2 linked regions of the Homo sapiens genome follow. The protein of the gene in region 2 binds, or shares a complex with, the protein of the main gene of each other region. Each region holds a gene or a part of one and is shown on either strand. Other genes may lie near its edges.

What was found. Proteins that work in one complex are often made in the same cells at the same time.
Region 1: NSMCE2 (region 2) and EID3 share a complex: the UniProt entries of both Homo sapiens proteins name them as parts of the SMC5-SMC6 complex.

The regions. Positions count from the first base shown.
Region 1 is NC_000012.12:104,302,179-104,305,705, forward strand, and holds EID3 (EP300-interacting inhibitor of differentiation 3), read left to right. Parts: upstream 1-1,560; 5' UTR 1,561-1,756; coding exon 1,757-2,758; 3' UTR 2,759-3,027; downstream 3,028-3,527. UniProt on the Homo sapiens protein: Tissue-specific component of the SMC5-SMC6 complex, a complex involved in repair of DNA double-strand breaks by homologous recombination.
Region 2 is NC_000008.11:125,101,730-125,105,678, forward strand, and holds part of NSMCE2 (E3 SUMO-protein ligase NSE2), read left to right. Parts: intron 1-284; exon of another isoform or gene 285-321; 5' UTR 322-417; intron 418-587; 5' UTR 588-601; coding exon 602-758; intron 759-3,949. UniProt on the Homo sapiens protein: E3 SUMO-protein ligase component of the SMC5-SMC6 complex, a complex involved in DNA double-strand break repair by homologous recombination. Is not be required for the stability of the complex.

The DNA of each region.
Region 1 (3,527 bases), on a different chromosome or scaffold from region 2:
AGTTAATAAAATAATTGGGAGCAAATGGTAATATAAGGATTTTGGAGTAACTTAATACTACTAGATTTTGCTGTTTATACATTTACAAAAAACTTTCTGCTAATGCTAAAGAAATAGAACAAGTCTATATGCATAAAGGAAGGTAGGGCTAATTTACTTCCTGGTGCTATGAAACTGGCAATTGGACAGGTGCAATTGTGGGTGTCTTTTTTTTTTTAAGGTGTACCTGTTGCAGGTTTGAAAAGCTGTTGATGCTCATGGGTTGTTTGTGTGCATGTTCTCTTTAAAAACCAGATGTATTCATTCCCTTTTTTTTTTTTTTTTTTTTTGAGACGGAGTCTCGCTCTATAGCCCAGGCTGGAGTGCAGTGGCCCGATCTCGGCTCACTGCAAACTCCGCCTCCTGGGTTCACGCCATTCTTCTGCCTCAGCCTACCGAGTAGCTGGGACTATAGGCGCCTGCCACCGCGCCCGGCTAATTTTTTGTAGTTTTAGTAGAGACGGGGTTTCACCGGGTTAGCCAAGATGGTCTCGATCTCCTGACCTCGTGATCCGCCCGCCTCGGCCTCCCAAAGTGCTGGGATTGCAGGCGTGAGCCACCGCGCCCGGCCATTCCCATTGTTATGTATACTTTGCTATTTGCTGCTGGTGAGACAGATAAGGAGTCACGTCTTTAACTGCACTTGAGTTTCCAGTGACCCCATTAAATCCAATGGGTAAATTTTCCCACGCAGATTACTCACCCAGTTTACAGATTAAGCTTTCATATCCTTAGACTGTATCTGAAATTTTCATAGCTTTGCCCACCTTTTAGGGTTCAGAGTTACTACCCATTCAGTGTCGGTGGCCTTTAGCTGTTGGCAAGCTTCCAAGTAAATAGCTCTTTTGCAGAGATCTCTACCCATTCTATTCTTCCACTCCTGGGTAGTGGAGAACCAAAGTTCACCTGAGTAATGCCCGTGCCCAGCACCCAGTTTCCTGCAGGGGTTAGCACGGATATTGGAGGCTCCCCCGATCCCACAGATACTCAGGATGGGTATTGGAGGGGGCTTGGTTTTTAAGAGGACATGTGAAAGTAATTAACCCGATTTACATTTGTATAATGAGTCCAAACACCACCTTGCAAAAGAACTGAGAGTTTAGCCTGCTTAATGGAGTTTCTGCTTTTCACGGTCCTTGGCCTTACCGACGGTTTACAGTCCAGCCAGATTTAGTTCACAAAAAACCAAAACCAGGTCGACCTCACTGCAGTATATGATGGCAGCGAGCGTTTTAAAGCGCAGGACCTTTAGTCTCCTCAATAGTTTTGTGTAAAGTTGTCCAAAAGTGTTTTTTTTTAAAGTGAGGTGATCCAGTCGGTAAACGCTTTGAAAAAGAATAGCTGTCCCCTGAGCGGGCATTAGTCGCGTGTGAGGTCAGGGCCCATCATTGCGCGTGTTGGGAGCGCCGCGCTGGTCTATGAGCGAGCGCCTCGGCTTGTGGCTGGGCCGGGCCGGGGCGGGGCTGTCTTCCCGCGGAGCGTGCTGGGGGCGGGTCGCGCCGGGCCGGGCCGCTAGTGCGCATGGGCGGGCGTCCTCGGCTCTAACTGCCGCCACTTTCCACACGCTGGGAGGGCCGTTACCTCAGAGATACCCGTGGCCGGCATGTTGGTTGAAAAAGCTTCCCGGAAGGGAGACGAAGAGAAAGGAGAGGAGCAGCTCGTGATCATCCCCGGTAGCGAGTACGCGGCGAAGTAGGCGGCGGCGGAGGGAGCGCTGATGAAGATGGATGTGTCAGTGAGGGCCGCGGGCTGCTCCGACGACCTCAGCTCTGGGGAGGCCGACGTAGACCCAAAGCTCCTGGAGCTCACCGCTGACGAGGAGAAGTGCCGCAGCATCCGCAGGCAGTACCGGCAGCTCATGTACTGCGTGCGGCAGAACCGGGAGGACATCGTGAGCTCGGCGAACAACTCCTTAACCGAGGCTCTGGAGGAAGCCAACGTCCTCTTTGATGGCGTGAGCCGAACCAGAGAAGCAGCCCTCGACGCCCGGTTTCTTGTTATGGCTTCTGATTTGGGTAAAGAAAAGGCAAAGCAGTTAAACTCAGATATGAACTTCTTTAATCAGTTAGCATTTTGTGACTTTCTGTTTCTGTTCGTGGGTCTGAATTGGATGGAAGGCGATCCTGACAAGTTGAGTGATTGTGATGATAGCATAGCTCTTTCCTTCTGGAAGGCAATAGAAAAGGAAGCAACATCCTGGATGGTAAAAGCTGAGACATTCCATTTTGTTTTTGGTTCATTCAAGCTAGAACGTTCTGCACCAAAGCCCCGACTTGAACACCAGAAAAAAGTTCGCAAGATGGAAGAAAATGGCAACATGCCTACAAAGTTGCAGAAGTTGGACCTGAGTAGTTATCCAGAAGCGACAGAAAAAAACGTAGAAAGGATTTTGGGATTGTTGCAAACCTACTTTCGAAAGTATCCTGATACTCCTGTGTCCTATTTTGAGTTTGTGATTGATCCAAACTCTTTTTCTCGTACTGTGGAGAATATATTTTATGTTTCTTTTATTGTAAGAGATGGTTTTGCAAGAATAAGGCTTGATGAAGACAGGCTGCCAATATTAGAGCCGATGAATGTTAACCAAATGGGTGAGGGAAATGATTCCAGTTGCCATGGCAGGAAACAGGGAGTTATATCTTTGACTTTACAGGAGTGGAAAAACATTGTGGCAGCTTTTGAAATTTCTGAGGCTATGATTACATACTCCTCATACTAAAGATTTCTTAGTATAGCATCCTTTTTGTGTTTTTTTTCTGAAGTTAGATGGAGAGTAAAATGTAAACTGAAGCACATATTGTATCTCTTGTAAAGTGAAAAAGTATTTTCAAGAACATCAGACATTGTTTTACTGTGCAGCATATTTTTCTTAGTAATTTATAAGGTCATGATCTTCTGTTATTAAAACAAATTCACTGGCATATTTATGGGAACGTTTTATTGAATGCCCTTTAAGACTATTAATAAAAACAAGTTTTGGATACCAAATTAAGGGATATTTGATAATTTGCAAAACATAATAATTTACGAAAATCAGTGATGATGCTCTGTGATGCGTTGCTTTCTCTGTCATAGGGAACCAAGAGAATCCCAGAAAGGGTTCCTAACCAGGTTGGGCAAAGAGTGGGTAAAAAACAAAAGTTAAAAAAAAAAACCTGTCTGTAAGGCAGTGAATATGCAACATTAAGACTAAAAAAGTCATTGCAAGGAAGACTTAGGATTTATGAGTGAGTATCCATATTCTAAACAATTTCTGTTATTGTACTCAGCAAAAGTAGTGTCTCTGCTGTAGTAGTTGAGGTATCAGCTAAGGGTGAAAGGTGAGTAGAAACACGAAGAAGGAAAAGGCATTCTAGGCAAGAGAATAGCAAGGTCAAATGCATGGAATTGTTAGAAGTTAGGCACGAGAGGACCATTAGATTTATGGAAAAACTATTATATTTGATAAGCTGGGCAACAATTGAATAACTTCATCTATTAATATCCTG
Region 2 (3,949 bases):
TGGATGTGCTGCCAGAAGACAAGTTTATACAGAAATTCTGCTTTCACTGACTCTGGGATCTCACCAAGTCTATTAATCTGTTAGAAGCCAGAGGAACTGGCAGGAATATAGATTTTCTCTTTTTTTTACAGTTTCCAGAATTCAGTATGCATATATGTTGGATAGTTTAACGATTACAGGTTTTCAAAATAGTTTACTAATAAACTATTTTATTAGTATTTTTTTCTCTTTGGAAAATTGCATCATATGAGTGGTCTACTTTTTCTAACCCATTTATCTTGTAGGCTTTTAAGAACTGTGCTATTGTTGACTTCTTCACAGAATCAAGCACTCTTTTGGAAGAGGGTAATCTCTCTCCAAAAACTGAGGACACTTACCTTCCCCATATATTGAGTCCAGCTGTGTTTGGTGGCCCAGGTGAGTGGCACAGTGATTTGGTGTCTTCTCTATAGGATATACAGAATAGTGTGGCATTTATGAGATATTGGATACATTTGTATGAATGTTTACAGCAGTTTTATTAATATTTTCCTGTGCAGTTATTATTCTGACTTACGAATCTTGTTTCATTGTGTTTGAAAACTTAGGTACTAATTTCAAGATGCCAGGACGTTCCAGTTCAAATTCAGGTTCAACTGGTTTCATCTCCTTCAGTGGTGTAGAGTCTGCTCTCTCCTCCTTGAAAAACTTCCAAGCCTGTATCAACTCTGGTATGGACACAGCTTCTAGTGTTGCTTTGGATCTTGTGGAAAGTCAGAGTAAGTAAAATTAAAACCTCTTTTGTGTCTACTTTGAGGTAACACTGTGTGGTGGTATTTATCTGGGGGTGCCTTTTGAGTATCCTTGGGGGAATGATTTAACCCCTCTAGGCATCTGTTGTCTCATTTTATTCTACACACCGCAGCAGGGTACTGAGGGTGAAATAAGATTGACTCATTCATGTGTGTTCAGACAGTTAAGTTCCATGAGAAACTGCGCTAGAAATGTATGGGCAAAGATTTGAAGATCCTGACCCCAAGGAGCATACAATCTAAAGTATTTGACATTTGTGAACTGTAAGGTATATAAATTTATTATGATATTGTTATTTTTCAGTAGTTTATACTTTGGTCATACTTGATTAACCAGTAGATAGACTAAGCTTATGCTAGGGATACCAGCAAAGGAAGGCCTCAACAAAAATGAGAAAAGTTCAACTTTAATGAATTTTACCTACATTTGTTCAATCAAGAAGATCTAGAAAGATGTGATTTGCAGGCCGGGTGCAGTGGCTCACCCCTGTAATCCTAGCACTTTGGGAGGCCGAGGCCGGCAGATCACGAGGTCAGGAGTTTGAGACCAGCCTGGCCAATATGGTGAAACCCCGTCTCTACTAAAAATACAAAACCAACATGGTGAAACCCCGTCTCTACTAAAAATACAAAAAATTAGCTGGGTGTGGTGGCAGGTGCCTGTAATTCCAGCTACTCGGGAGGCTGAGACAGGAGAATCACTTGAACCCGGGAGGTGGAGGTTGCAGTGAGTCGAGACCGAGCCACTGCACTCCAGTCTGGACAACAGAGCAAGACTCTGTCTCAAAAAAAAAAAGAAAAAAGATGTTATTTGCTTTCTTTGGAGTAGAATCGTTTTTATTTTATTTTACACATGGAGCCAGAGGAGCAGCATGATCCTTTTGTTTTGTTTTTATTGGCATAGGTTTTGAGCAATTTGTGATGTGCCGTGGTGTGATTTTTTTTGTCCTGACTGATATTGTTTGAGATTTATGGATCTGTCAGCTTATAGTTTTTTGAATCAAATTTGGAAAAATTTCTGCTACTATTTCTTCAAATATATTTTTTTAATTCCTCTGCTCTCCTCTCCTTCTGTGTGACTCACATTTCATGTATGTTAGATGGGTTGATATTGTCCCATAAATCAGTGGAACTTGATAGATTTTTTCCAGTCTTTTTACTCTTTAGCTTCAATTTGAATAATTTCTATTGCTAAGTTCATTCATCTTGTCTACTGCAGTGTCTAATCTGATAATTCCATTTAGTGAATTTAAAAATTTCAGTTACTGTATTTTTAATTGTTGAAGACATAACAAAGAATTAAGTAGAATCTTTTTTTTTAGTCTTCCATTTCTTTCTTCATTGTGTCCATATTTTCCTCTACATTCTTGAGTATATGGAGCATGTTTATAATAGCTATTTTAATATCCTTGTATGTTAATTCTGTCATCTCTATGTGTATTATGTTGTTGAGTGTTTGGATTTTGTTGTCTTTTTTTTTTTTTTTTCAGCCGGAATTTTGCTCTTGTTGCCCAGGCTGGAGTGCAATGGTGCGATCTCGGCTCACTGCAACCTCCGCCTCCCGGGTTCAAGCGATTCTCCTGCCTCAGCCTTCGGAGTAGCTGGGGTTACAGGCATGCGCCACCACGCCCAGCTAATTTTGTAATTTTAGTAGAGACGGAGTTTCTTCATGTTGGTCAGGCTGGTCTCAAACTCCCAACCTCAGGTAATCCGCCTGCCTTGGCCTTCCAAAATCTTGGAATTACAGGCATGAGCCTCCATGCCCAGCTTGTTGTCCTCTTTTAAATAGTGTTGGAGTTTGTTTGGTGTGCAGCTAAGTGATTGTGGATTAGGCTGATCCTTTCTAGGCTTATCGTTAAGCTTTGTTAGGTCAAGTCTAATATAGCCTTTATGTTAGGGCTAATTTAGCCTTGTTACAAAGCATGGCCCTTCTGGAGTCTCTCTTGATTGCCCCGAGGGTTCAGTGCGATAGCTCTACTCTGGCTGGATGGAATTTGAGTGTCTCCCGGTCCTAGGTCCTACGTGACTGAACCTGGGAGTTGTTCACTTTATAGCTGTCAGTATTTGTTGCTCAGCATCTTAGGACTCAGCATCAGACTCAAGGGGACCCCAGTGCAGATTCCTAGAGCTCTTTATCTGCATAGCTCCCTCACTCTCTTGCAAACCCTGCTGGCTGCCTCAGCCTCCCTGAACTGAAGTCTCTGTCTCCTCAATCCTTCAAGACTGCTGTGCTAGGCCGAGCATGGTGGCTCCTACCTGTAATCCCAACACTTTGGGAGGCCGAAGCAGGAGGATCTCCTGAGGTCAGGAGTTCCAGGCCAACCTGACGAAACCCTGTCTCTACTAAAAAACAAAAATTAGGCATGGTGGAGGATGCCAGTAGTCCCAGCTACTGGGGAGGCTGAGGCAGGAGAATTGCCTGAACATGGGAGAAGGGGGTTGCAGTGAGCCGAGATTGTGCCACTGTACTCCAGCCTGGGGAAGAGAGTGAGACTCTGTCTCAAAAACTCCCTTGGATTCCTCCTCCCTTGCGCAGGGAGGAGGCCATTGCAAGACTTTTCCCAGTTTTCCCTTATTGCAGTAATTACAGTCCTGTCCCGCCTTTGTCCTACTGTCCCACAGCTATTGTTTCATATATTTTGTTTAGTTTTTCAGTCATTCATGGCAGGTGGACCAGCTCCATACAGTTATTCATTTACGGCTAACAGCAGGTGTCACTCATAATCTTTTTAGTGGGTGGCCTCCAAATGTTTTAACCCTACCCAGTCTGTTTTTGATTATGTTTTTGGTGATCATAATTTAGCTTTGATAGATAGGCCTGGATAAAAGTCATAATAAAATCTTAAACCATAAGAGAGAAGACTGGAACATAACCCCTTGGGAGATTGTATCAGTTTTTTTCAGGATTCTTTTTGAAGATTCCTGGGAGTTTTAGCTACAGAGTTTTTTTTTTCTCTTGGTTTTGTTTTGTTTTAAATAAGAGGTATATTTTGTTGTAAAATACAACATGTGCAATTTAAGAAGAATTATAAACATCATTTTTTGAAAGGTTCATGCTCTAAAGCCAAAGTTGGCAAAGTTTTTCTATAAAGGGCCAGATAACAAATATTTTCAACTCTGTAGGCCATGTGGTTTCTGTCACAACCCGCTGTTGTAGT